Regions from separate parts of the Homo sapiens genome. Here region 2 is linked to region 1. Evidence: fine-mapped expression QTL. A gene starts in region 1. The other region holds a variant in brackets. All regions are shown on one strand. Distances are from middle to middle.

Region 1 (14,702 bases):
TCTTCCCTGACTCCTCTTAAACACTTGCTCAATCCCCACCAACCCAAATAAATATACAAACAAAGCCATCTCCTAACTACTTTTTCCGTAAGCTTCTACCCTTCCTACTTGCTTCACCCCCAGATTTCTCCATTAGCTCACTGTGGCCTACTGGATAAAGTCTAAACCCAATATGGCACTCAAGGCCCTTCAAAACTTGGCCCCAGCTGGGCGCAGTGGCTTACGCCAATAATCCCAGCACTTTGGGAAGCTGAAGCGGTGGATCATGAGGTCAGGAGTTCGAGACTAGCCTGGCCAACATAGTGAAATCCCGTCTCTACTAAAAATACAAAAATTAGCTGGGTGTGGTGGCACGCGCCTGTAGTCCCAGCTACTCGGGAGGCTGAGGCGGGAGAATCACTTGAACCTGGGAGGCTGAGGCTGCAGTGAGCCAAGACCGTGCCACTGAACTCCAGCCTGGGTGACAGAGTGTCTCAAAACAACAAACAAACAAACAAACAAACAAACAAACTTGGCCCCAATCTAACTTCATCTCTAGTCACTTCCACATTACAACAACCTTGCACTCTCAACTCCCCAGGCCCTTCCAGGGCCCTCTGCATCTCAGTGTTGCTCTGCCATCAGGAATGGCCAGGTTCCTTTTTGCCCTTTGGCAAACTCCCTGGGACAACTAGGGGTTTGCAGCTCTGGTCCCATCCATGCCACCTCTTCCTCTAATATGCTTTAAAACTTACCCATCCTTCCCACTAGAGTGTGAGTTCCTCAAGGGCAGGGGTTGGTCTTCCCTGTCTCTGTGTCCCTAGGACCTGGCATAATGCCTGGCACAAAACAGATGTTGAATAAATGCTCGCTGAGTGAATGTGTGAAGAAATCACCCAGCTCCTGTTGAGATGATTATATCTGAATGTCCATGATATGCAGGTCCATAAAACTACCAACTTCCCAAAGCTGCCATGTGCGGAGTGGCAGAATCTCCATCCAAGAAGGCCAGTGCAAAGTCTACGAGGTGTTTTACAGCTATGACAGGAAACAGCAATGTCAGCAGCGGTGTCATCTTTGGACACTAAGGACAGGGATTCAGTGCCATGAACGGTCAGTTAAATTGTAATTGGAGTGAACTGTTCTTCTGTAAACCATAATGTTATTTAGCTGCAGCCAAATGGCATTCAAGAAGGGGAGAAATTTTTTTTGAAATGTCACAGAAATTATTTCCAATTTGGTGCTCACAACCAGAGACTCTAATGATCAGTGGAAATGAGAAGCAAACAAATTAGCACTAATGGAAAATGGCTTTTGGAAAAGAAGATTTAATTTATAGTCAACTGATCATGGCATGCAGCATGCAGTAAAAGTCAGCTTCACCAGCTTGATCATAAGAACTGGAGCACACATGGAATGCCAGAGAAAAATATATGTATGCCATCATGCTTATTGGGATCTCTCTGTAAGTGGCAGCCAATTAAAATAGTCATTATTTTACCTCAGAGAGAAAACGGTGCAAAAAATCAAGCACGCGAAATTAAAAATCCAGATTAAGAACCTCGGTCCAAATTGGTTTGTTTGTGGCCTTCTAACCTTGGCAAAGTCTTCTGCAAGGATAACAGACCTACTTTGTCTTCAGCCCAGAGTGGACTCTTTGTTTTTAATTTCCTCTCCATCTTCAGAGGTGATTAATAAATCTGGACTCATCCATAAATCATTTCTATAGTGGCCAAATGGTTCTTCTTCATGCAGGGAAACTAAAATCACACAATCTCAAAAGCCTCAGCTCTCATGCTAAGCCAAAGGTCCTTGGCAACAAGCGAAGGGGAGGTATTAAAAATCAAGAGGTCAATAGGTCTTGTTTCTAAATAAAATTTCCCAGAGGGCTTCCCCACCCCCCCGGCAAATCAAAAGACACCTTCTGAAAGCAAAGAGGCCTCCAAGGCATGGGTTGCCAGCCTGGCTCACTGTCCCCACATGGCCTCGGAGACAACAAGCAAGTCACTGCCTCCTATTCCTGTAGGTTTCACATGTAGAATGAGACAGGCCTTCTCCTTGGGCTCCCGTCCCTGACTCCTAACTCTCAGTTCTCCATTCAGAGATAGGGAGAGAGAAACATTATCTCCTCAAACTTCCAAACAAGGTGTCCTTATTTCTCTCCCAGGGGCATATGCACTCCAATTTGTCACTTCCTTCTCATGGACCCTCTTCTGCTCCCCAGTCATACCCTGGCAGATACCCCTACCCCTGCTACTCATCACTTCCTGGTAGACTCCATCTGCCCCCACCTTTTCCTCACATCTGTCCATTTTCTCCATCCTCTCCCCACAAGAACTCCTTTCCCCCATCTCCTTCCTATGAAATCCTCTGCCTTCATCTTCTCCCCACTTGCCCTCATTCCTACCCACAGCCCCCACTCTTCTTCTCCCCAGACTCACTTCTGCCTCCAACACTGCTCCACAGACCTGCCCTCATCCTCTCTCCACAACATGTAACTGGCGAGGTCAACCACACTCTCCTTGCCCCTTCACTGCTCTATGCTTCATCTTCCTCGACCCATTTCCCAGCCTTCCTTCCCTTCCCAACCTTTTTACTCTGCTCTTGAAAACCCTTCTTCCCAATCAGCTAAGTCTCCTCCATCCTCAGCCTCTCCAGTCACCTGCCCACCTCCAGCCTGCATCCAAAGCTGGCTCTACCCCAGGGCTCCCCTTCTGCATGGCCCTCCTGGTAGAATCTGTTTAGATTCTTACACCCCCAGGATTTCAGGTTTAGGAGGGGGCCTCATGTCTCCTTGCCAAAGCCCAACTCAGTTCCTTATTCCACCTCCTTCTTGTAAAAGCCCTTACTACTTCAAGGGTCATACCATTTAGCTGTCTCAGCCTTTGCCCCTCCTCATGCTGTCACCTAGAGACTCCAGAAAAACCTGCTCTGCCCATCAGAGACTGGTACCTAGCTCACGGGCATCCTCTTCCCTTCCCTCCCCTCAAGTCTTTCTATCATCCAGGGGGAGTTCAGTGGCCACATCAGCATCCTGACTGTCTCCTGTACTCCACTTTGGTCACTGACTCCCACGGCCACACAGTGGACCTTGTCATCACCGGAAACTACTCAAACTTCATTCTTCCACTTTCTGATCACAACTCCCTCATTCAATGATCTCAGATGTGGATTCTCTGACTTCACTGGGACCTCTAGTCCATACATTTTTTTTCACTCTCCTATCCAGTTTAGATACTAAGGCCCTTCATTTCAATCACTGTTTTGCCACAATCTTCAACTTCCTTGTCCTTTGTCCTTCCATTGTATCCGCCTGGTAAAACCCAAACCTAGATCAATTAAACTAACCTCTGTGTACCCACCACTAGGTGGCTGAATGTTGTTGAGGGAAAAATGCATATTACACAACCTTGCAGACTGCTGCTTCCGAAAATTAATGGTCACTAACCTCGACAGGGCCATGATAACTGCCCAGAAATCTGTTTGCTACCTTAGTCATCTCACTGCCACTCTCCAGTGCTGCTATTTTAATCTTTCTCTGCTCTTTTCAATCTCGCACACCATCTCCAATCCCACTCTCACTGGCTGATATAATGTTCTTATTTGACAGAGAAAATGGAAACCATCGAAGAATTCCCTCAGCTTCCTGTCACCAAACCCACCAATTAACCTCAACGTAATGCTTCCCTTCTGCCACAAAACAAATGTTCCTCCACCCTTCTAAGTGAATTTCTTCACCAACACTTTGGTGAAGTCTTTTTTTCAAGGGCACCATTCTCAGTTATCTTCTTTCCCTTATAGTTTTATCTTTTTCCCCTTTGCTGGATCCACATCAACATTTCTTCCATCCGAATAAAAACCTGTGTTTCCTGCTGGATATTGCCTTCTTTTTTCTTCTCCTAAATAGCCAAGCTTTCTGAAAATGTATCTTACATGAATCTTCACTTCCTCAATCCCATCTGCTTCTCAAACCACTGTAATTTGACCTCTGCTCCCATCACTCCACTGAAACTGCACTTGTAAAGGTCACCAACAACTTCCTTGTTTCTAAATCCAGTGGATTCTTTCAGGCCTTATTTTACTTGATTAGTCATAAGCCTTCAACACTTTCCTTCCTTGGCTTCTGAAACACCACATACTACTACTGATCTTCTTACCATTTTGGACACTTCATCTTGATTACCTTTGCAGGTTCGTCCTCCTTTGCCAGACCCTCAAACTTGGGTGTTTCTCAGGGCTCTGTCCTAGGTCTCTTCTGACTCTACACTTACTCCCTGGGCAAGCTCAACAAATCTATTGGTGTGGCTGGCATCTATAAGGCCCCATAGACTCCCACACTGCAACTTCCAGTTAGACTTATCTGGCGAACTCCAGTTAGGCATATCCAATGGCCTTCTGGATACCTCCACTTGGATGTTCCATTGGCACCCCAAGCTCACCGTGCCCAGAACTGACCCTCTCCTAAAAACCCCTGCTTCCTCTCCTTCCTGTTTGCCCAAACCAGGAATCTAGAAGTCATCCTTCATTTCCCTTACTTCCCCCACACCCAATTAGTAACCAAGTCCATTTTTTTCTAGCTATAAGTGTCTAAGGAATTCATCCTGCCCTTTCCATTTCAGCTGCCACTCCATGCTTTGTGCCACCATAATCCTTCCCCACTACTGAAACAACCTCCTAACTGGTCTCCCTCCTTCTCCCAATCCTCAATCCAGTTCCTGCACTAATGTTTCTTTTTTTTTGAGACAGAGTCGCGCTCTGTCACCCAGGCTGGAGTGCAGTGGAGCAATCTCGGCTCACTGCCACCTCTACCTCCCAGGTTCAAGCCATTCTCCTGCCTCAGCCTCCCAAGTAGCTGGGATTACAGGTGTGCACCACCATGCCCGGCTAATTTTTGTATTTTTAGTAGAGATGGGGTTTCGCCATGTTGGCCAGGCTGGTCTCGAACTCCTGACCTGAAGTGATACGCCCGCCTCAGCCTCCCAAAGTGCTGGGATTACAGGGGTGAGACACCACACTGGGCTCTTTGTTTTGTTTTTTGAGACAGGGTCTCACTCTGTCACCCAGGCTGGAGTGCAGTGGCACAATCATGGCTTACTGCAGCTTTGACCTCCTGACTCAAGTGATCCTCCCACCTCAGCTTTCCAAGTAGCTGGGACTTCAGGCATGCGCTACCATGCCTGGCTAATTTTTAAAATTTTAATTTTGTAGAGATGAAGGTCTCACTATGTTGCCCAGGCTGGTCTTGAACTCCTTCAAGCCATTCTCCCGTCTTGGCCTTCCAAAGTGCTGGGATTACGAGTTTGAGCCACCGCGCCTGGCATGCAAAGAGTCTTTCCCCCTCCCTATCTCTAAAAGTCTTTCAAGGCCCAGCTCAAGAGCCAACCCCACTGCCATAAATGCCCCTTCTCTGATTCTGAGCTCCTCAAATCCTTACTCTTCTGTAGTATTTATCTCACACGCAGAATCAGAGTTGCTTCATGCATGGTTTCTCTCCCTCTCCCGTTAAGACATGGGAGAGGGAGGGCCAAAAGCTTGATTCTCACTAGGGCCTAAGGAACCTTATTTAGCCCACCCAGTCTCTGGCACATAGTATGTAAATATGCTGGCACATAGTATGTAAATATAGATAAATGCAAGAAAGTTGCACTCCCAGCTCCTCGGTGGGCCCTATCAACAGGGCATTCTCTAAAGTCATCAACTGAAGACTGCTTCCCATCCACCCATCCATCCATCCATCCATCCATCCATCCAGAATATGCCTCAACCCCACTGGGTGGAGGTTGGGTCGGCACGCGCCCCCTAGGCCGTTTTGTACGGTTTTATACCTCCAGCCCTCGCAGTTGCGGCTGGTAGAGGATGGCAGAGGTAGGTAGACGATGCAAGTCAAAGGGCACACTCTTCCGCCGCGTAGGATAGGACTCTGTTCGGACGAGTGACCCTGCCCATTCCCAGAATACAGCAACTCTTCAGCCGCCTCTCACCTACATGAGAGGGTGGGGACTCTTCCTGACCGGCGCCCCGGCTGACCAATACCTGATCCAGATCAAGCGAATTAGCCAATGGCTGCGGGTCAGTAATAGGGGCGGGGCATGGTTGCTAGGGCCGAGCTAGTGGGGTGAGGCGAGAGGCTCTGGAAGAGACTCGGTGGTTGCTAAGGCGGGAGGTCACAGAGCGCGGCGCAGGGATTGGGCCGTGTTGGGGGAGGTGTGTGGTGATTGGGCGGCGCCCAGGAGGCGCCCGGGTGAGGCACGGGTGCGCAAGCGGGAGTTCCGGCTGGAGACCCGTGCTCTGGGCCGGCGCCTTCACCATGGCCTCGGCAGAGCTGGACTACACCATCGAGATCCCGGATCAGCCCTGCTGGAGCCAGAGTATGGAATGAGGGTTGGGTCCAGGCGCGGGGAGGTGACCTCATGAACCTGTGGGTTGCGAGCGCAGCTGTAGCCCCGCCCCTCATGCGGCCCCGCCCTCCCTCGGGCCGCCCCCTCATAGGGTCTGGCAGGTCCTAGACTTAGAGAGGCTCAGAGAGCCCCGCCCCTCGTAAGTCCCGCCCCAGAGTGTTCCTCCCTGGCGAGCCCCGCCTCTGCCCGAGTCAGCTGCTCGCTTGGGACCTCTTTTTCTGTCTTTCCTGTCCGGGGTGCTCAGGTCCATGCCCTTTAATCACTTCTCATAGCTGAAGGCTGCCGAAAGCTGGATCCCTCCTGATTCCTTTGTTTGGGATTGGGCTTCCCACATCTAGCCTATCACTTATTATTTTCCCGAAGGCGTGGAGGGGGAGGCTCGCGGGGTCACCGATCCTCGCAGAAGCCCGGGACTCAGAACCCTTAGCCGTCCCTCTCCACTCTTCTCGGCAGTGGTTAACAGTGCAGTCTCTGCCGTCGGGTAGAACTCGACTGAAATCCTGACTCCTTCCTTTAGGAGCTGGATTACCTTTGGTAAGCTACCTTCTCTGAACTTCAGTTTCCTCCTCTGCAAAACCGGGATAAGGATAGTAACCTTCCTCATAGGGCTGTTGGGGCCATCTGGAGATTGTGTAAAGGGCCTGGCATGGAGTGAGTTCAGTAATTGGCATTTACGATCAGCATTGTTTCTCTCCTTACATTAAAGAAAGACATGTAGGATTCTCCACAAAATTAGGATTGACAGCAGGCCCGCATCCATGACAGTGTGAGTAGATCGGGGTCCAGAGAGTGGAAAGTTTGGTCTCTCTGGGAATTCTGGCAGAAGGGCCTTGAAGTATGATCAGCCTGAGGCCAGCGTGTCCCTCACTTGCATTAGTCCAGCATCGCCTTCACGCCTCCTGTCTCACTGCCTGCAGCCCAGCCTCTTAAACTGCTACCACAGTGATCTTTCTAATGCAAAGGTTTGATCTTATACTCTGCTCTCCATAAAACTTACCTCCTTAAGGAGAGCCTTCCCAGATCCCTCCCGTAGCATCTCATGTTCTTTGGTTGGAGTCTAGGAGAGGGCAGCCCTTAGACTCCCGCAGAACAGATGGCCCCAGACCAGCTGTTTTTCCCTAGAACTGGATCTGCTGGCTTAGCGCTTTTGGGTTTATAGATGTAAAAATACTTTGGACACGTTTTGGCGTCAGCAAGCCATGAAGTCAGTTAATATTATTTCCTTTGGAGAGTCTTCGGCTGCAAAGGGTTGGAGCTGCCTTCTGCACGGCCAGGAGGGCAGCCTCGTGGTCCTGGTTCACATTTCAGCTCCATGTCTTACAAGTTATATGTCTTTGGCAAGCTATTGAACCTCCCTGAGCCTGAGATTCCTCCACTGTGAAATGGGAAGAGTACTAGTGCCTACCTCCTCGTGGGATTGCGAGGGTTACGAGGTAGCGTTTGGATGTGTGTCCCTGGCACAGTGCAGGTGCTGCCATTGCATTGCTCCCCTGTGGTTCCCCCTCAGCCCCCCTTTCTTTTTTTTTTTTTAAGAGATGGAGTCTCCCCTGTCGCCCAGGCCGGAGTGCAGTGGCGGATCCCATGGCTCCCTTTGCTGCTCCAGGAGGCTGGGTCTTAGAATTGGAAGAAATCTCAGAGACTGTTTTGTCCTGCCTCCCTCTGTTGGCATGAGTGCATTCCATTGCTAGCAGACCCTTCCCTGGGGCGATGCTTCTGCCCAAACATTCTAGCCTGTTGGAGGCAGCTGGGATTGTTAGAAAGCACTTCCCTTTCTTGAGCCACAATAGGCCTTCCTGTAATTTCCGCTCTCAGTTCAGTATTTGCTGTGTCCTGGCTGTGGGATCGTTGTTGGCCACTCAGAAGTGACTCACACGCCCAAGGAGCTGAGGTTTTGGGGAGGGGAGTGAATTTATAAGCAGGTGGTTTCAAAATGGTGTGCTAACTGCAGGGCTAGAGCATTGTGGTGGGAACGATACAGAGCAAGGAATCTCTCTTCCTCTGTTCAAGAGGACAGCTTCGTGCCTTCACATTTCCTCCAAGGGAAACACCTCCACGGCTTTCAGTTGTTTCTCCTCCTTATTGCTGCTCCTGACTGGCTTTAATTCATTGCCCTTCCCTCTCACAGTCCATGCTCCAGAGGAGAGCTAGAGGTTGTCAAACCCCTCAGAAGGAGATCACGACGCTGTGGTCCCCTGAATCCATTTGCTTCCTATCTGCAGAGCTTCCCTCCAGGCCAACATGGCCTGATAGAGTGACAGTCTTTTGGAGCCCCAGAGATTGTCTGTCTTTTGCAATTACTGTTTAATGGTGGAGAAGTGTATAGGACATTCATATTTAGTTTCTGAAATTACTTTTTAAAAACTTTTTTTTTTGAGGTGGAGTCTAACTCTGTCGCCCAGGCTGGAGTGCAGTGGCACGATCTCAGTTCACTGCAACCTCCGCCTCCTGGCTTCAAGCAATTCTCCTGTTTCAGCCTCCCAAGTAGCTGGGACTACAGGCACCCGCCACCATGCCTGGCTAATTTTTGTAGTTTTAGTAGAGACAAGGTTTCACCATATTGGTTAGGCTGGTCTTGAACTCCTGACCTCAGGTGATCCACCCGCCTCAGCCTCCCAAAGTGCTGGGATTACAGGCGTGAGCCACTGTGCCCAGCCTTTAAAAACACTTTTTTTTTTCAGTTTAAAAAATTTTCATTTTCTTATATGGAGACAGAGTCTTACTGTATTGCCCAGACTGGTTTGAAACTTCTGGGCTCAAGCAGTCCTCCTATCGCAGCCTCCCAAAGTGCTGCGATTACAGGTATGAGCCACTGCACCTGGCCTGAAATTACTTTTCCCCTGTATTTGAAAAATCGAAACCACAGAGCCCATCACTGCTGTGAGCTGACAGAGAAGCTGATGCTGGCACATTAGCTAGCTGGAAGGCAGCTGCAGATCTGGGGTCATTCAGAGCCCTGGGCCTTGTAGGTCAGGCTTGGCAGCCCAACATCCTTCTGCTGGGAATCCTACCAGCCAGTACCTATTGGCTGCCCACACCGATGGTCGTCTGCCCAGGCCTTTGCTAAAGCCGGTCGTTTGACCCAGAATCTGTCTTCCCTCCTCCCTCTCTTTTTCCCAGGCCAGTGATCCCCTCAGTCTCTCAATACCCTCTCTTACTTCATTTCATTTGGGAAGGGTCTCTCCTGGGGCTCCCATAAGCACTATATTTTCCTGTTGTCGTGTTTTTGATGGCTTCACTCACTGTCACCAGGGCCTGGGAGGGATGATGTACCAAGTGAGCTGAATGGAATCACTTGGCAGCACTGTAGGCCCAAGCCAGAGCTGCTCTGACATCCCAGGCCCAGGCCGTGCCACCCCTCCTCCCATCCAGAGAATGGTCAGCCAAGTCCCACCTAGATCCCCTCTGTGACTTGCTCATAGGCCAGCAACCTTCTTAAAGGCACCGTGTGGCTCTCATGTTCAGTAAACATAAAGAAAAATTCATTCATAGAATTAATGAGTCTGGGGCCTGGTCATGGGACAAACATTTTGCTCTTAAAGTAAACAGAAGGTCTTAAGGGGATCACAGAGAGGGGAAGTGAGGGGGTTTTTGCTCCCCAGGTTTTACCGCATGCCTTTTTTGCTCATCACTGGCTGAGGTCAAAGAAATATAGACATCATTTTAACCCTCAGGAAGTTGTCTCGGACACCCAGGAGACAGTGCTGAAGGGTCTGGACCACCATGGTGGGCCCTGTGGTGGGAGAGGCTTCCTAGAGTAGAGCAGCCCAAGCTGGACCTGAAGCTTCAGGAGGGCTGACAGACCCCCATGGTGAGCAGCAGAAAGTGTGGAAGTCAAGTCCATGGCCATACCACCTTGAACATGCAGATCTCAGAAGCTAAGCAGTGTCAGGCCTGCTTGGAACTTGGATGGGAGAAAGTGCAGAAGTAAATCCCTGAAGGGGGACAGTGAGTGGCTGGAGGGAACAGGGGCCTGGCAGGAGGCCGCGCTGTGCTTTTGTGGGTGGAGAATTAGATGAAAACCTGAAGATCTGTCATGATGGACAGACCTCAAAGACCCAGGTGAAGAGAGTCGTTTGGGATTTGATCCTTGTCTTGTCTACGAGGACCCCAAAGGTCTTTTTTTTTTTTTTTAATACAGAGGAGTTGTATTTATTTTTGGAATCATGATCTCTTTTCTTTCACCTCTAGATAAGAGCCCTTTCTGGCTGGGCGTGGTGGGTCACACCTGTAACCCCAGCACTTTGGGAGGCCGAGGTTGGCGGATCACCTGAGGTCAGGAGTTCGAGACTAGCCTGACCAATATGGAGAAACCCCATCTCTACTAAAAATACAAAATTAGCCGGGTGTGGTGGCGCATGCCTATAATCTCAGCTACTCAGGAGGCTGAGGCAGGAGAATCGCTTGAACCTGGGAGGCGGAGGTTGCAGTGAGCCGAGATTGTGCCATTGCACTCCAGCCTAGGTAACGAGAGCGAAACTCCGTCTCAAAAAAAAAAAAAAAAAATAGGATGCTTTCTAAGTGTCTGCTCTATGCCAGGTGCTGGTGCTGTACTAGACCCTGGATTTGAGATCCAGGCCTCTTTGCAGGCCTCCTTTTCTCTGAATGTCTGTGGTACTTAACACTGTTAACCATGTTCTATCCACATGCCAGGCCCACCAGGAGCTCCTTTCATTATTTTATTAATCCTCACAACCACCTTGTGAAGTAGGGAGAACCCTTAATCCTGTTTTACAGATGAAGAACAGATGCTCGTGGGGAGGTAAAGTGTCTTGCCCAAAGTAATTCCAGATTTCAGCTTAAGAGCCTTACTCCAGAGCTTGTGCATGCCGAGATTTCAGTTGCCATTAGGAGGGGCTGCCTGAATACGATGCCATTTCTAGGAAACAATTAGGGACATGCACAAAGAAAGGGGTGTCCATTAAAGTATTTTTATAACAGCAAAAAATTGGAAACAGCATCATATCCAATAATGGGAGATTTGGTCACCATAAATTATGAAACATTCTATAGCCTCTCTGAAGCCACTAAAAATAATGGTGTAGAAATATATAAACTGACAGGGAAAAATGTTCACAATATATTGCCAAACGGAAGAAAGCAGATTACAAACAATATGATTCCAATTTTATTAGATATTCATTTTCTACTTTTTCTACAGTGAGTATGCATTACTTGTGAAGTAATAATAATTTCAATTTATTGAACTCTTTCCTTCTGCCAGGCACCATGATAAGCCCTCTATAGCTATTATCATATTTAATTCTTTGTATCATTGTCCCCATTTCACAGATAAGGAAATTGAAGCTTAGAGAACTTGATTAAGGTCTGTGTCATAGTTATTAAGTGGCAGAGGCAGAGATTTGAACCGAGATATGATTTTGTACAGTATGTACTCTTAGATACTATGCTACTCTGCTCTGCTCTTCTTTTAAAAAGTAAATAAAAAATAAAGTAATTTGGCCGGGTACAGTGGCTCACGCCTGTAATCCCAACACTTTGGGAGGCCGAGGGGGGTGGATTGCTTGAGCCCAAGAATTTGAGACCAGCCTGGGCAACATGGCCAAACCCTACCTCTGCAAAATAATACAAAAATTAGCTGAGCATGGTGGTGCTTGCCTATAGTCCCAGCTACTTGGGAGGCTGAGGTAGGAGGATTACCTGAGCCCAAGAGTTCGAGGCTGCAGTGAGCCATGACTACACCACTGCCCTCCAGCCTGGGCAACACAGAAAGACCTTGTCTCAAAGAAGAAAAGAAAAATTTGATTTAAATATAGGAACTGTGAGACACTAGAAAGTTTTTCTGGGGAGTAGAGAAAATTAAGACTCTTTCAATTTTTTGCATGTTATTTTATTTTTATTTTTATTTTATTTTATTTTTAAGACAGAATATCGTTCTGTCGCCCAGGCTGGAGTGCAGTGGTGCGATCTCAGCTCTGGGTTCACGCCATTCTCTTGCCTCAGCCTCCGGAGTAGCTGGGACTATAGGCGCCCGCCACCACGCTCGGCTAATTTTTTGTATTTTTAGTAGAGACGGGGTTTCACCTGTTAGCCAGGATGGTCTTGACCTCCTGACCTCATGATCCGCCCACCTCGGCCTCCCAAAGTGCTGGGATTACAGGCGTGAGCCACCAAGTCTGGCCAATTTTTTGCATTTTAAAAAGAAAACATGGTTTCTATTTTCATTCTGGCTTGCAAATAAAAAAGTACATATTGTACTGCAGACCCTTATGCCTTATCAGCCCATTCCTTTGTCTTCCCCATATGCCCCTGGGGTATACACAATCTAATTTATGCTTGAGTTTTATGGCTTGAACTGTTGTACAATATACGTATTTGTAATTCTGGCACTATCTGTGTCAGTGTTATTTGTTGAGAAATTCTAGAGGACAGGGAGCTTGTGAGATTAAATTGCTTTGTGGGGTACTCGAGAAGTGCTAGGGTTGAAAAGAATCCTTCCACATTGCTGAGGGGCTTCTGGGCATCCCTGGCCTCTTTGACTTCTCAACTGCTTTTGACTCTGCTGGACCACCTCCCCTGTTGTTTGAGATAATATTTTAACTCTCATTGCAGAAGTTATACATACTGATTTTAGAAAGTGGGAAAAAAATCATGAAAAAGAAATTGCCTCTAATCCCATAAATAATTGCTATTAATATTTGATGTATTTTTTTCTATGCATTAAAAAAAATACATGGCTGGGCGCGGTGACTCATGCCTGTAATTCCAGCACTTTGGGAGGCCGAGGTGGGCAGATCACCTGAAGTCAGGAGTTCGAGACCAGCCTGGCCAACATGGTGAAACCCCGTTTCTACTGAAACCACAAAAATTAGCCGGGCATGATGGTGGGCGCCTGTAATCCCAGCAACTAGGGAGGCTGAGGCAGGAGAATCGCTTGAACCTGGAAGGCGAAGGTTGTAGTGAGCCGAGATTGCACCATTACACTCCAGCCTGGGCGACAGAGTGAGACTGTCAAAAAAAAAAAAAACAACAAAAAAAGTGTGCGTTTGTGTAGTATGTGTGTGTATATGGGTATTCTGTTATGATATTGCTTTATAACTTGTGTTTTCACTTAATGTATTACTATTATTTTTAAAAATAATAACATTATTGAGAAATAATTCACATACCATAAAATCCACCCTTTAAAAATGTACTTCTGGCCAGGCGCGGTGGCTCATGCCTGTAATCCCAGTACTTTGGGAGGCTAAGGTGGGAGGATTGCTTGAGCCCAGGAGTTCAAGACCAGCCTGGGCAACATAGTGAGACCCTGTCTCTACAAAAAATAAAAAATTAGCCAGGTGTGGTACCATGTGCCTGTAGTCTTAGCACTCAGGAGGCTGTGATGGGAGGATCGCTTGAGCCTGGGAGGTTGAGACTGTAGTAAGCCATGATCTCACTACTGCATTCCAGCCTGGGTGACAGAGTGAGGCCCTGTCTCAAAACAAAACAAAAAAAAAAAGTACAATTCACTGGCTTTTGGTATATTCACAGAATTGTAAGAATATCACTGCCATCTAATTCCAAAACATTTTCATCATCTGAAAAAGAAACCCCATTCCTGTTAGTAGTCACTCTCCATTCCCTCCTCCCCCCAGCCCTTGGCAACCACTAATCTTTCATTCTCTGTGGATTTGCCTATTCTTGATATTTTATATAAATGAAGTCATATAATATGTGCCCCTTTGTATCTGACTTATTTCACTTAGAATGATGTTTTCAAGGTTCATCCATGCTATCACGTGTATTAGTACTTCATTCCTTTTTATGACTGAATGGTATTTAATTGTATGGATGTATCACATTTTGCTTATCTGTTCACAGATGATAGGAGGTATGTTTCCACCTTTTGGTTATTATGACTGCAATGAACATTCATGGGCAAGTTTTCATGTGGATGTATATTTTTAGCTCTCCTGGATGTATCCCTAGTAGTGAAATTGTGGGATCATGTGGTAACTCTACATTTAATTTTTTTGAGGATCTGCCATACTGTTTTCCAAAGTGGCTGCACCATTATGCATTTCCACCAGCAGTGTATGAGGGTCCTGGTTTCATCCACAACCAACACTTGTTTATTATCTGACTTTTTAATTATAGCCATCCTGGGTATAAAGAGATACCTCATAGTGGCTTTGATTTTGATTTCCCTAATGGCTATGATGTTGAGCATGTTTTTATGTGCTTATTGGCCATTTGTAAATCTTCTTTGGAGAAAGACCTGCTTAATATATTCAGGTCCTTTGCCAATTTTTGAGTTGGGTTTACTTTTTGCTGTTGAGTTTTAGGAGTTTTCTCTGTATTCTGGATATTACTCCCTTATCAGAT
Region 2 (14,702 bases), 48 kb before region 1:
CAGTCAGTACAATAGCGTTGAGACAAGAGCTTGTTTGCCAATTTCTTTTTTTCTTTTTCTTTTTTTGAGACGGCGTCTTGCTCTGTCGCCCAGGCTGGATGGAGTGCAGTGGCGCGATCTCGGCTCACTGCAAGCTCCGCCTCCCGGGTTCACGCCATTCTCCTACCTCAGCCTCCTGAGTAGCTGGGACTACAGGTGCCCGCCACCACGCCCGGCTAAGTTTTTGTATTTTTAGTAGAGATGGGGTTTCACTGTGTTAGCCAGGATGGTCTCCATCTCTTGACCTCGTGATCTGCCCACCTTGGCCTCCCAAAGTTCTGGGATTACAGGCGTGAGCTACCGCGCCCGGCCTCTTTGCCAATTAAAAAAAAAAAAAAAAAAAAAAGAACCAGCAAGGGAGTCCAGTGTGTCTGGAGCAGAGTGAAGGACAGACAGAGGCAGAAGAGTTTAGAGAGGTGATGGGAAACCTGAGCACCTAGGGTCTTCATTCAGCGAAATGGGGAGCCCTCCAAGGTTTGAGCCCAGTGATAGAATCTGAAGCTTAAAAGGATAACCCTGGCTGTCGTATTAAAAAGAGAACAGGTATTGACTGGGCACAGTGGTTCACGCCTGTGATCCCAGTACTTTGGGAGGCTGAAGTGAGTGGATAATTTGAGGTCAGGAGTTTGAGACCAGCTTGGCCAACATGGTGAACTCCTGTTTCTACTAAAAATACAAAAATTGGCTAGGCGTGGTGGCAGAAGCCTGTAATCCTAGCTACTCGGGAGGCTGAGGCAGGAGAATTGCTTGAGCCCAGGAGGTGGTGGGTGCCAGTGAGCCTAGATCACACCACTGCACTCCAGCCTGGGTGACAGAGTGACATTTCATCTCAAAAAAAAAGAAACTAAAAGAAAAGAGAACAGGAAGAGGGAGAAAAGCAGAATAACGTTGAAGAGAGATGATAGTGGCTCAGCCCAGAGTATTAACAATAGAGGTAGTGAGATATGGTTGGATTCTGGATGTATTTGGAAGATAGAGCCAACAGACATAATAGATATGGGTGCTAAAGACGGACATTAAAAAGCACTCCACTATTTTGTTTTGTTTTATAGGAAGGATGAGTTGCCATGAGTTGAATTGGGGAAAGTGGCACGGGATTAGGAGTTCAGTTTTAGACACGATGAGGTGGAAATGTTTAGCTGGAAATAGAAATGTAGGAGTCATTGGCCTATAATGATATTTAAAGTTCTGAGACAGGATGAAATCAGCAGGGTGTAAAAGCAGATAGAAGAGAGACTCCAGACCAGGAGCCCTGCCTCACTCCAACTTGAATGAGACTGGATTGAAGAGGAGAAATCTTCAAAAGAAAAAACAACACCATGCACACTCAGGCCAGGCACAGTGGCTCATGCCTACAATCCCAGCACTTTGGGAGGCCAAGGCAGGAGGATCACTTGAGCCCAGGAGTTGGAGACCAGCCTGGACAACATAGTGAGACCTCATCTCTACAAAAAAAGAAAAAAATATTAGCTGAATGTGGTCGTGGTGCACATCTGTAGTCCCAGCTACTCCGGAGGCTGAGGCATGAGAATTGCTTGAGCCTGGGAAGCAGAGGTTGCAGTGAGTCGAGATTGCACCCCTGCACTCCAGCCTGAGCAACAGAGACCCTGTCTAAAAAAAAAAAAAAAAAAAAAAGCTGGGTGTGGTGGCTCACGCCTGTAATCCCAGCACTTTGGGAGGCTGAGGCGGGCAGATCATGAGGTCAGGAGTTCGAGACCAGCCTGGCTAAGATGGTGAAACCCCATCTCTACTAAAAATACAAAAGTTAGCTGGGTTTGGTAGTGCATGCCTGTAGCCCCAGCTACTCAGGAGGCTGAGGTTGCAGTGAGCCGAGATTGTGCCACTGCATTCCAGCCTGGTGACACAGCGAGACTCCGTCTCAAAAAAAAAAAAAAAAAAAAAAAAAGACTATGCACACTCCAGCCCCTCCTGGAAGAACCTACCTTTTTCCAGAAATCCTCAACCCAGTCTCCACCTACCTGCCCTAAGTTCCCTTGAGACTCCCTTTTTACCAGGCCCCTCCCCCTGGGAGAAGGTGCTTTGAGCATGAGCTCCCCTTCCTCCATTCCTATGATGTAAGGTTTTCTTCTTGGTCACTTTGCAAGCTGGGGACCTCTGGCCAGCAATGCCCTGCCAGGTCTCACTCGCCAGGCTACCTGCTGCAGGAGATGGCCTTTACTTGCTGCAGGAGACGACCCACCCGCTCAGTCCAGTTGGCGGAGTCTAGCTTATGCACTGGTTCCCGAGTTCTCGTCCCACGAGCCCAAGAAGAATGAGGATGCACTGGCAATTGAAGAGTGAGCAAGGTGGGGTTTTACTGAGTGATAAAACAGCTTTCGGTGGCTGTGGGGGGTGGTCCCCCTACCTGAAAGTGGGAAAGTCCCCCTAATATGGCTGAGTCCAGGGCTTCTATGGGCTCAGAATGGGGGAAGGGCAGGCCATAGGTAGTATTGGAAAAGGCAACATTCAATTGGTTAAAAGGCATTATTCAGAAAGAATCAATCAGGAAAGGGCAGGCAAACAGAAACAGAAGTTCTCACTCTGGGTTGTGGGTTTCATCCAGGACCAGCAGTCGGTCTTTCAGCCTTCAGGCTGTTTTTGGTTTGAAGGTGGGGTTCACTGGGGACCCACCCCTATCTGCCTAGGCATTTGGCTGCCTCCTGTTGCTATCTCCTAGATCAATGAATAAAGCTTCTGCTCTGCTTTATGGAACCTGGCCTTGTTCTATTGGTGCAAATGGTTCCAGGCAAGGAAAGGACCCATTAGGATCAAACGACCCCCTTTAATGTCTGTAACAACCGGAGAAAAACCAGGTAGGTAGGGTGTTCTGGAGGAAAGGGTGCATAGGCCATCAGGGAGTGGAGGTGAGGCCCTCTATTCAGGCTATGCCCTTGAACCTTCTAGGGTGTTGGTGGCCCTTCCCTCTGGATCTGCTTTTTTTTTTTTTTTTTTTTTTTGAGAATGAGTCTCACTCTGTCGCCCAGGAGGCTGGAGTGCAGTAGTGTGATCTTGGCTCACTGCAGCCTCTACCTCCCGGGTTGAAGTGATTCTCCTGCCTCAGCCTCCCAAGTAGCTGGGATTACAAGTGTGTGCCACCACACCCGGCTAATTTTTTATTTTTTATTTATTTTTTAGTAGAGACGGAGTTTGACCCTGTTGGCCAGGCTGGTCTCGAACTCCTGACCTCAGGCGATCCGCCCACCTCAGCCTCCCAAACTGCCAGGATTACAGGCGTGAGCCACCGTGCCCGGCCTGTTTTTGTGATGGGGTCTTGCTTTGTTGTCCATGATGGCTTCCAACTCTTGGGCTCAAGAGATCTTCTTCCTTCAGCCTGCAGAGTAGCTAGGATTACAGGTGCAAGCCACCGTCCTAAACTTGGACCTGCTTTTTAACTTGAGGAGCACAGGCACCACAATCTAGCATCATAGCTCTCACTTGACCTCCCTTCCCCCTCCACACACACAAAGAACAGACAGGTATCAAGGCTGTTTATTGACTCTTCGCAGCCAGCGGCTCTTCCTCTGCCCCTCTGGGATGCCTAATCCCCGTCTCCCCCCTGGAGCCAAGTGGAGTGGCTCTGAGCTTGACCCCAGGCGCCTTCCTCTTGCCAGGCTTCCCTGCCCCGCAGCCTTGGCCTTCCTGGTTTGCCACAGGGGCTGTTACTCCTTTGATTCTACATCCTCCTCGAAGTGTGTGAGGTAGGCCATCTGAGCCGAATCGCGCGAGCCATAGAGAGTGTTCATGCTGTAGGAGCTGCCATGGAGGCACAGGGCTGCAGGCAGGAAAGGCGGGCGTGAGGCTGTGCTGGCGGCGCCTGCGCCCGGCTTCCCTCGTCCCACACTCACCTTTGGTAACATTGACTGTGTTGGCCGCCAAGATGTCCGCCTGAATGCTGTCTATTTTCATGTACAAGTCCTCAGCGTTGCTCTGAGGACAGGAGCAAGGGGGACCCGGCTGGGGTGCCAGGGCAGTCTGGACTTGGAGTTGGGCTTGGCAGAGGGATGTTGCAGGTGGGGGGCGGGTCGGCAGCCTGACCGAAAGGGCAGGAAAGGGAACAGGAAGGTGGCGGGTGGAGGAGCCTACGCCAGAGCAGTCCCTCCTGCAGCTGGTGGCCAGGTCCACTCTGCATGTGGCGCGCTCCAGGATGGGGACTGTCTGAAGGGGCATCACACTGTCCGAGCCGCCATCTGCTCATTGCGGCGGGGCAGGAAGGGCGCACTTACCAGGAAGAGCTGGTAGAGTTCCTCCCCCATGCACTTGCGCACGTGCTCCGCCACCAAGGGGAACATCTGCACGAAGCACTGCGCCGCGCGGGCGAGGCGGCGTGACTGCGGGGGCGACGGGGCTGCGGGTGCCGCCGCCCTTCCCGCCCCCTAACCAGCCGCCGCGCGCACCTCCAGCGTGAGGCTGGCCAGCCGCTGGCTGTTGCTGTGGTCCGTGTTGCCCATGGCGGCCATTAGGCCACGCACCACGCGCAGGTACAGCAGCTCCTCGGCGATGCTCATGTCGTTGCGCGCCAGGACCCTGGGCCGGGGGTTCGGGCTGGGGCGACGCCCTGGGGCTCACCCGGCGCACACCCCCGCCCACCCGGCGCACGGAGCGCTCCCGGGGCCCGCCGGCAGCGCCAAGCCAGGCTTGCTGCAGCTACCCACTAACCCCTGCCCGCTTACCCGATGGCCTTGGCGGCCGCGGCCTGCTGCAAAAACATCGGCAGGCTGGGGGTGAGCTGGAGAACCGAGGGGTCTGAGGAGGGGGCAGCCGTGAGGCAAGAGACCGCCCTCCCGTGGCCCAGGCAGCCCCATTTGAGCAGGTCCTTACCACTGAGGATCTTGGCCTGCAGTTTGGAGATCTCCTTGACCGACGGTATCAGCAGCGCCACGAGGCCCTTGAGCAGCGCCTGGCGCACATCGTAACCGACCAGGTCTTTGATCAACTCGATGGCTGCGGAAGGGCAGAGGTGCTGGAGAGAGGCCCCAGGCCCCTCCGCCACCGAGGAAGCAAAGAACCCCGTGAACCAAGTCGCCACTCGTCAGTGTCCTCCTCTTTTACTGATCAGCACTGTGCAGGGCGTGGGGGAGCTGGGAAGGCGAACCTCAGTTGAAGAGCAGGAGGAGGGGGCTGAAGGGGGAGGAGGAAGGGTTGGATGGTGAGCCCACCTGTCGAGGCGGCCTAGGATGTCAGCGCTGGAGGCTGAGACCCCAGAGAGGGGGGCCTTCGCCTTGGAGGAATCCAGGTTTCATGGAGGAGGGAAGGGCTGGGTCTTTACGGGAAGACAAGATGGAGAAAGACAAGGGGTGAGAGGGAGACAGAGAAAGTGGGTGGGAGACTTGTGGCAGGAAATGAGAAAGGGGAAGGAAGGTAGGCGGCAGTTTAGAGAAACTCTCCTTCTAACCATCATCGAGCCCTCTCCACCAGGCAGGGTGCCAGGCTTTCCATACAGCACCCGTGGAAGCTCACCAGAACCAGATGAGGTTCACTTCCCCATTTTACCTTTGCCGAAATTAGACACAGAGAGGTAAACCACTTTGCCTAAGTTACACAGCTAGGAAGTGATGGAAGCAGAAGGAGGGGAGGATTTGGTTAGGAAGGAGAAGGGGACTAGAATTTATGGAGGGCATTTCCTGCAGGGCTTTCCTGTAGATATTTTACAGGCAGTCATTCATTCAGTCCAGCATTCACTCAGTCTTTCGGCACGGCTGCATGTGAACGCCTATGGTGCCAGGCGCGGCATTGGGTGTTGAGGATACAGACTGAATTCATTCATTCGACCAACCCTCCTTAAGCGTGCACAAACAGGCAGCGATGATATGGTGACAGGTGCTGTGGAAGGAGTCAGTGATTGGGCTGTGGGAGCACAAGAGAAAATCGGCAAGGATTGAATGTTTTTGTAAAGAAGAGAAAGGAACCACAGAGCTAGAGGGGGCAGGAGGAGAAGGAGATGCTAAGATGATGGCACACCAGCATAAATGCTACCTTTTTTTTTTTTTTGAGACAGAGCCTCACTCTGTCGCCCAGGCTGGAGTGCAGTGGCGCGATCTCGGCTCACTGCAACCTCCGCCTCCTGGGTTCAAGCAATTCTCCTGCCTCAGCCTCCCGAGTAGGCTGGGATTACAGGCGCCCGCCACCACACCCGGCTAATTTTTTTTTTTTTTTTTTTTTGTATTTTTAGTAGAGATGGGGTTTCACCATCTTGGCCAGGCTGGTCTTGAACTTCTGACCTCGTGATCCACGCGCCTCGGCCTCCCAAAGTGCTGGGATAGCAGGCATGAGCCACTGGGCCCGGTGGGCCCAGCCAGTAAATGCTAGTATTTTTGTTTGTTTGTTTTTTTGAGACGGAGTTTCACTGTCATCACTCAGGCTGGAGTGCAATCGCTCACTGCAACCTCTGCCTCCCGGGTTCAAGCGATACTCCTGCCTCAGCCTCCTGGGAAGCTGGGATTACAGGCGTCTGCCACCACGCCCGGCTGATTTTTGTATTTAGTAGAGACAGGGTTTCACCATGTTGGCAAGGCTGGTCTTGAACTCCTGACCTCAGGCCTCCCAAAGTGCTCAGGCCTCCCAAAGTGCTCCCAAAGTGACCGAGAACTCCTGCCTCGGCCTCCCAAAGTGCTGGGATTACAGGCATGAGCCACCACGCCTGGACTTTTTTTTAAATTTAAATTTTATTTTTTTTCTGAGACAAGGTCTTACTCTGTCGTCCAGGCTGGTCTTGAACTCCTGGGCTCAAGCGATCCTCCTACCTCTGCCTCCTTAAGTGCAGGGATTACAGGTGTGAGTCACTGTGCACCGGGCACTGCTACTCTGAACACATGTGGCTACATGGAAGACAGGACTTGGCCATGTGCTCTCCCCAGCTCAGTAGTCAAGTGCCTCTCTCCATTTACTGGTAAGAGAGAGAGGGTTTAGAGGAACTCTTGTTCCGGCGCTCAGCTCATTTGCATCCCAGAATGCATTGTAGATACGAGAATTATTACCAGGGTTATCTGTTTGAATAATAATATTTAAACTTTTTTTCTTTGTCAGGAGATTTTACCCAGTGAGAACATGTTTAGGACACTTTTCTACAGTGGAAGAAAAGCTTCTGTCTGCAGGTCCAAAGGCACCGTAAGTAGAGGGAGACCAGTCAATAGCTGGGAAGCCAGGCAAAAGGCTAACAGGCAGATCTCTGGTTTCTCTTCATAACGAATAAATCTTTCGCCTTTTACTAAAGATTTCCGTGGAGAAAAACAACTATGAGTTTATGGTTAAATTTTTTGAAGTCTTGCCTAGGCAAGGCTGAATGTTCTGTTACTAAAGAGAGACGTGTGGGTGGGGTGTTTCATGCTTTGGGAGGTTGGGGTAGCTCCACAAATGTCACCCAGGTTGTAGCGGAGTGGTGTGGTCGCGGCTCACTACAACCTCCATCTCCCATGCTCAAGCAATCCTCCCACCTCAGCCTCATAAGCCTGTCTAATTTTGTGTACTTTTTGTAGTGCCCGGCCTACTGTCATGTTTTTTTAGCTTCTTGTAAACATTTAGGAAGCTAAATGTTTATAAGATTTTTTTTTTTAAAAGAAAACCTAGTTTTTGACAGTCTGTATCTAATAATTTGGCTGAAGTCTTGTGAGTCTTTCTAGTGTGCTAGTTCCAATTTATAGTGATGACTTTGTGTGCATGATTATCTTATACTTTGGACTGGTCTCATATTTGAAAAATTAAGTGTAGGAAAAACTTAAGAGTTAGGATGATGATACTTTCTTCCAGAGATAGTTTTCTTTTGTTTTTATCAGGTACCTGGGGACACAAACAATTCTGGACTACCTTTGTCCACATTCAACACTTGAGGTTCTCTGGACCACCTGGTAGTTATATAATCCATACAAGACCACCTGAGGGCCGGCTTACTTTTGGCCCACCTTGACCTTGAGGGTACTGTCTTCTGGGGTCCAACTTAAAGTATGTATGCTAGAGGTATCAGACTTCCCACCGAGAGCAGAATCTCAGTGCCTTCTCTTTCTTTTGCCCTTTTTTTGTTTTGTTTTGTTTTGAGATGGAGTTTCACTCTGTCACCCAGGCTGGAGTACAGTGGTACGATCTCGGCTCACTGCAGCTTCCACCTCCTGGGTTCAAGGGATTCTCCTGCCTCAGCCTCCCGAGTAGCTGGGATTACAGGTGCGCACCACCACGCCTGGCTAATTTTTGTATTTTTTAGTAGAGACAGGGTTTCACTATGTTGGCCAGGCTGGTCTTGAACTCCTGACCTCAAGTGATCCACCTGCCTTGGCCTCCGAAAGTGCTGGGATTACAGGTGTGAGCCACCACGCCCGGCCTGAGAAGTCTTCTTTATCTGGCTATTGCTACTCATTCTTCTAGGCTCAGCTGAGAAATCAACTTTCAGGAAGCTGCCCCTGGCCTGCTCTCCTCTGCCTTCACTCTTCACTCAGGAGTAGATGTCCTATGTCTCTGAACCCGTAGCACCGTATAGAATTCTTGCTATAGAATTCTAGTACTATCCACTAAATGGTCTCCTCACTAGTGTGTGAACTCCAATGAACATATCTGACACATCTCACTTCTGTTTACCTAGAGCCTGAAACCATTCCATGTACACAATGCATGCTCCATACATCTTGTTGAAAAGACCTCATTGGATTCTGCATTCCAACAGGCGAGGCTTGGGTCATGGCAGCCTAGGACCA[C/T]GCTTAGAAACCACCAGCCTGGTGGTGGATGACCCCAGAGGAGGCTCTGCAGTGGCCACTGTGGTCCTCATTCACACAGCTACAGAACTTTCCTAGCTTGAATCTTGGACAGGCTGGAGAGCCAGAACTGTGGCAGCTGTCTCCCCGTATACCCCATGGCCAACTTTTTTTTTTTTTTTTTTTTTTTGAGACAGAGTTTTGCTCTTGTTGCCCAGGCTGGAGTGCAATGGCACGATCTTGGCTCACTGCAACCTCTGCCTCATGGATTCAAGCAATTCTCCTGCCTCAGCCTCCCAAGTAGCTAGGATTATAGGCGCCCGCCACCACACCTGCCTAATTTTTTTGTATTTTTAGTAGAGACGGGGTTTCACCATGTTGGCCAGGCTGGTCTCTAACTCCTGTCCTCAGGTGATCCACCCACCTTGGCCTCCCAAAGTGTTGGGATTACAGGCGTGAGCCACTGCACCTGGCCCCATGGCCAACTTTGAGAGTGCTTTGAAGCCAGGACCTTATACTTCTTGGCCACCCCAGAACTGGGCACCACTCTATGGATGCTCATATCATACAACCCAGGCACAACAGAAAGGGGAAGAGTGTGGTCCTTCTCACAGTGGGAGACACAGGGCACCTGGTGAGATGGTCAGAGATGTGGACTGCGTGGATTTACAGAGCACACAGAACAGGTCTCTGCTTCAGCTCCTGCAAACTTTACTTGTTTAACTCCAAACAGACATATGCTGCCTAAAAAGGAACACATGCTGGCGATTTCTAACTTTGTCAGAAAACTATCATTGATGATTTCCAAAAGAGCAGTGGTCTGGGAAGGCAGAGGGAGCAGCCACATCCTGTGTGCTGCAGGCTGCATGCTCAGCTCTCCTGGGTGCTGAAAACACCGGCGGAGGGATGGGGAGCTGACTTCTCCACTCCAGGGCTCAGAGTGCCCTTCGGCAGGAAGAAGAGAATGAGTTTTGGCTGGTGTGTCAATCTAAGGAAAGGCATGGAAAGGCTACTAGTAGAGAACCAGCCTGCCTCCTCGAAATTGCCCTTGTGCCAGATCCTGCTCTCCTCTGCCTCTTGCCCATCATCCTCAGGCTCCAGAGCCTTGAGGCACACTAGAGGGGGCCTGGTCCTGAAGCCCTATAAAAGCTAGTTTTGTCTCATCCTGGTTTTCCCAATCACAGAATTAAAAAATCACCTGGAGGTGGAAGATCTTCAAAGACATCCTGTGCTACCCCTTCCAGTACTTATTCACCCTTTGGGGGACAGACCTTGTGGGGCAGACCCTTTCCTCTGAGGACCTTCCTGATTTAGAAATAGTGGCTTCATTCAGAAATGCCTTTTTTTTTTTTTTTTTTTTTTCCGAGACAGTTTCACTCTTGTTGCCCAGGCTGGAGTACTATGGTGCGATCTTAGCTCACTGCAACCTCTGACTCATAGGTTCAAGTGATTCTCCTATCTCAGCCTCCCAAGTAGCTGGGATTACAGGCATGCACCACACTGGCCAGCTAATTTTTTGTATTTTCAGTAGAGACGGGTTTCTCCATGGTGGTCAGGCTGGTCTTGAACTCCCGACTTCAGGTGATCCGCCTGCCTCGGCCTCCCAAAGTGCTGGGATTACAAGCATGGGCCACCATGCCCGGCCCAGAAACGCTTCTTATGACCAACCAGCCACTGCTGCTGGGCTGCCTCTTTCTTCTAAGTCTTCTAAGGTAGCCCTCGCAATCCCATCTGCCCACCCTCTGCAGCCTCTGGTTGCCCAGATGTGGTCCTATTTTGGAATCAAAGGCCCAGCAACATTGTGGAGGGAAAGGGACCAGCCCCGGGAAGGGGCAAAGCACTTGAGCTTCCCTGGCTTCCCCCAAACACTCTCTGATCTGGACAAAATGGCAGACCGGACATCTCTGGCTGCTTGGCAGCCGTAGCCTGCACCGGCTGCTGCCTGAAACCCCAAAGTATTTCTCACTTGTTCTACCATTTGGTTTCTTCCCTCTTCTTGAATTGGTGCAGCTCATTTTTTTGGAGCCAAGTGGTCTGGCCCCTCATGCATCTGATGACACTTGGCTTTGTCGCCTGCAGCACGTCCCTCATTAGTAGCTGGGCTCTTCCCAGGCACAAGCTGGCAGTGCGTAATGCCAGGACATCCTGGGCAAATGTCTGCCTGTGCCCAAGAGCTCTTCCTGCAGCAAGACATGACTTGGTGGACACTCAGGGTAGAAACGAACAGGTGAAGATATTTTTATGAAAATTTCTTGACCACAAATAGCATTTTCTGCCCATGTAGAACCAAATACTCCAGGAGACAAATGTCTAGTTCTGACTATTCACTTTACCTAAATGCTTAATCTTTTGCTAATTATGTATTTGTAACACTTGGAGCTACTTAGAAAAATGAAGATTTATTCACTGAATCATTTCTGACTGAGTTTTAAAATTCACAGCTGTCACTGTTTATACCCAAAGTGAAAGTACTGGTCTCTGCCCAAATGTCTTCACAGGAACCACAGCCAGTTACAACTCTTTATATATCGTGCTAGTTACTAGGAAGGGCAATTCCTTCAGAAAGCAAAGGACAACAAAAGACTATCTTTGGCAGCTTTGCCTAAAGCCTGTGGTGCTGATAACACCCAAATGTCCTAAAGCTGAGCAATCACTGATTTATTCATTGATTCATTCATTTATTTAACAAAATTCTCATTGAGCATCTTGTCTGTGCCAGGCCTCTGGGCTAGGGCTATGAAGAGGACTAAGATCTAATCACTGGCCTTAGGGACATCACAGCTGAGTGGGGGATACCAATAGGGAAACTGGCATTTATGAGGCAGTGTTATCAGGGCCATGGGAACACAAAGGAAGCCAGGTTGGTTGATGGAGTGGAGATGATAGGGGATGGAGAATCAGGAGAAGGATTCCTTGGAGACGGTGATGCGTGAATTGGCAAAACCATAGGGAGAAGGGAGGGGCTGGAATGTAGAATGTGGCAAGTGCCATGTTGGATAGTGCCATGTCACATTTGTGGCCAGGCAAGGGAGATCTGGCTGGGAAACAGGGATGCTGGGTCATGCATCAGAGCTAAGCCTGTGGAGGCAGGCCAGCCCCAGCTTCTGCAGGGCTATGCATGTGCCAACAACCCGATACAGCAGGCATTTTTCTCATTTCATTTCAGAGAAAAGGAAGGCTCAAAAAAGTTGAGTAGCTCGCTCAGGATCAGATAGCTAATAAGAATAGTTCTGATTTCAGGCCGGGCGCGGTGGCTCACACCTGTAATCCCAGCACTTTGGGAGGTCAAGGCGGTTGGATCACGAGGTCAGGAGTTCACGACCAGCCTGGCCAAGATGGTGAAACCCCGTCTCTACTAAAACTACAAAAATTAGCTGGGCGCAGTGGCAGGTGCCTGTAATCTCAGCTACTTGGGAGGCTGAGGCAGGAGAATATCTTTTACCTGTGCAGCAGAGGTTGCAATGAGCCGAGATCGCGCCACTGCACTCCAGCCTAGGTTACAGAGTGAGACTCCGTCTCAAAAAAAAAAAAAAAAAGAAAAAAGAATAGTTCGGATTCCAAATCCCATATTCTTCACCACTAAGTCTACTGCCTCCACTCTGGTGGTGGACTAGGAAAATGAACTGTGTGTGGGCGCCATACTGGACAGATGAAGATTGGTGTAGAGGCCAGTGCAGGTGAGCAGTATGAAGACCTGAATTACAGCAGTGGAGACAGAATGGGGAAGAGGGAACGCATCTGCATATTGAAGAGTTAGAATTGACTGGTCTTGTTAGAAGTTGGTTGAAGGTGGGAAGCAAAAAGACAAGACAATTACCAATATTTCTAGCCTGGGCAGCTGGGTACTTTCCACTGAGATTGGGACCTTGGAGAAGAAAAGCTTTGGAACTGGAATATCAGAAGTCCACTGGTGACATCTGAGGGGAGGTGTTCAGAAGGCAAATGGACACACAGGTCTAGAGCTATAGAGAGGTCACTCCACTACTCTGTCCTCCATCCATAAAATGGGGAAAATAATAGTGCCCACCTCCTTGGCTTGCTGTGAGGGGTAAATGAGTAAAGATCAAGGGCAGTATCCAGCATAGAGTTAACACTCTATAAAGATTAGCGACTATTGTTTCTGTCATCAAGGTGGTAGGTGGTACATAAAGTCGTGGTAATTAAAGTTGTGGGAGCGGACGAGGTGCCATAGACAGCAAAGAAGGAGAAGAAGACCTGGAGTTGAATGCTGAAAAAAAAAAATTGACACCTAGGAGACTGGTAGAGGAATGGGAATGTATAAAAGACCGAGAAGCAGTTTCTAGAGCCATAGGAGGAAGCCAGGAGAGTATGGGTTTGGGAAGGAGGATGAGAGTATTCAAGGAGGAGGTATCATCAGGAGGGTTTGAATGTTTGAGAGTTCAGGCCCCATGAAGCTGAGAGGATGCTCTGTGGGGCCCATGCTCATGCATTTGACAAACAGGGATTGAGCACGTGCTAGGTGCAGTGCTGGTGCTGATGAAACAGCAGTAAATGAAACAGATGTGGCTGGGTGCAGTGGCTCACGCCTGTAATCCCAGCACTTTGGGAGGCTGAAGCGAGCAGATGATCACTTGAGGCCAGGAGTTGAAGACCAGCCTGGCCAACATTGTGAAACCCTGTCTTTACTAAAAATACAAAAATTAGCCAGGTGTGATGGTGGGCGCCTGTAATCCCAGCTACTCAGGAGGCTGAGGTAGGAAAATTGCTTGAACCCGGGAGGCAGAGGTTGCATTGAGCTGAGATTGTGCCACTGCACTCCAGCCTGGGTGACAGAGTGAGACTCCATCTCAAAAAAACAAAAAACAGATGTGAGGTCCTAGCCACTCACACTCCATGGAAACTCTTTAATGGTGCAGGAGACAAATTCATTGCTCCAATCCGAAGAGGAACTTTGGAATCCACAGCCTATCAGCATTAGAGGAAACCTCAGTGATCACTGGTCTGATCATCTCATTGAATAGACGAAGAAACCAAGAACAAATGACTTGCCCAGGAAACCACAATGAACAAGAGACAGGGCTGTAGCAGCAGGCTTAGTATTCCTTTGGCAGAAGGAGCCATAGAAATGGCATTGTACCTGGGAACTGTGGATATTCCATGCAGCCATTTCCAGGGTGCTAACAGCACTGATCATTTATAATTCTTTGATCCCAGAGCCTTGCAAAACCAGGGTTCCGGGTCTTTCTCTGCAGGTCCAGACAAGCCTGCCACCTACTGGACACATATGAGAAGTGCGCTTCCTTACCGAGGTTTGCTTCCTTTTCCAGCAGGGCACTAGCATGAACGTGTTTAGCATGTTGCACTGCTGTAAGAAACAGACCAGTCAGGCGTGGTGGCTCATGCCTGCAATCTCAACACTTTAAGAGGCTGAGGCGGGAGGATCGCTTGAGCCCAAGAGTTTGAGGCTGCAGTGAGCTGTCAAGCCACTCAACTCCAGCCTGGGAAACAGTAAAACTGTTTCCCCCCCAACAAAAAAAGAAAAAAGGCCGGGGACAGTCAAATCAGGTTGGGCAACATCGTGAGATCCCATCTCTAAAAAGAATTAAAAAAAAAATTAGCCAGGCATAGTGGCATGTGCCTGTAGTCCCAGCTACTTACTTGAGCCCAGGAGGTTGAGGCTGCAGTGAGCCGTGCATGCGCCACTGCACTCCAGCCTAGGTGACAGAACAAGGCCCTGCCTCAAGAAAAAAGGAAGAGACCAGTGTCAGCCATCTTCCTGACATTCTGTAATTAATTCTGTCTCTGATTTCTGTATACCCTGCTACCTTTTTTTTTTTTTTTGAGACGGAGTTTCACTCTTGTTGCCCAGGCCGGAGTGCAATGGCGTGATCTCAGCTCACCGCAACCTCCGCCTCCCGGGTTCAAGGGATTCTCCTGCCTCAGCCTCCCAAGTAGCTGGGATTACAGGCATGCACCACCACGCCCGGCTAATTTTGTATTTTTAGTAGAGAAGGGGTTTCTCCATGT

Evidence for each region.
Region 2: its variant is fine-mapped to the expression of ARMH1 in blood mononuclear cells (TOPMed, PIP 0.99).

What each region holds. Positions count from the first base shown.
Region 1 is chr1:44,665,976-44,680,677 of GRCh38, reverse strand. It overlaps ARMH1 (armadillo like helical domain containing 1), which reads right to left and starts at 5,964. Exons shown (of 12, transcript NM_001145636.2): 1 at 5,805-5,964. TMEM53 (transmembrane protein 53) reads left to right here and starts at 6,197. Exons shown (of 3, transcript NM_024587.4): 1 at 6,197-6,347. The coding sequence starts at 6,287. SNORD145 (small nucleolar RNA, C/D box 145) reads left to right here and starts at 9,622; the gene lies at 9,622-9,721. RefSeq lists silencers at 6,025-6,074, 6,145-6,194, 6,345-6,484 and an enhancer at 6,252-6,753.
Region 2 is chr1:44,714,400-44,729,101 of GRCh38, reverse strand. ARMH1 (armadillo like helical domain containing 1) reads right to left here. Exons shown (of 12, transcript NM_001145636.2): 7 at 4,858-4,980; 8 at 4,710-4,782; 9 at 4,434-4,563; 10 at 4,263-4,340; 11 at 3,885-3,966; 12 at 3,511-3,811. The coding sequence ends at 3,699. It overlaps RNU5F-1 (RNA, U5F small nuclear 1), which reads left to right and starts at 7,200; the gene lies at 7,200-7,317. It overlaps LOC105378690 (a long non-coding RNA gene), which reads left to right and starts at 4,983. Exons shown (of 5, transcript XR_007066059.1): 1 at 4,983-5,067; 2 at 7,063-7,143. RefSeq lists a silencer at 5,371-5,665. The variant C/T (reference allele first, on the strand shown) is at 8,718.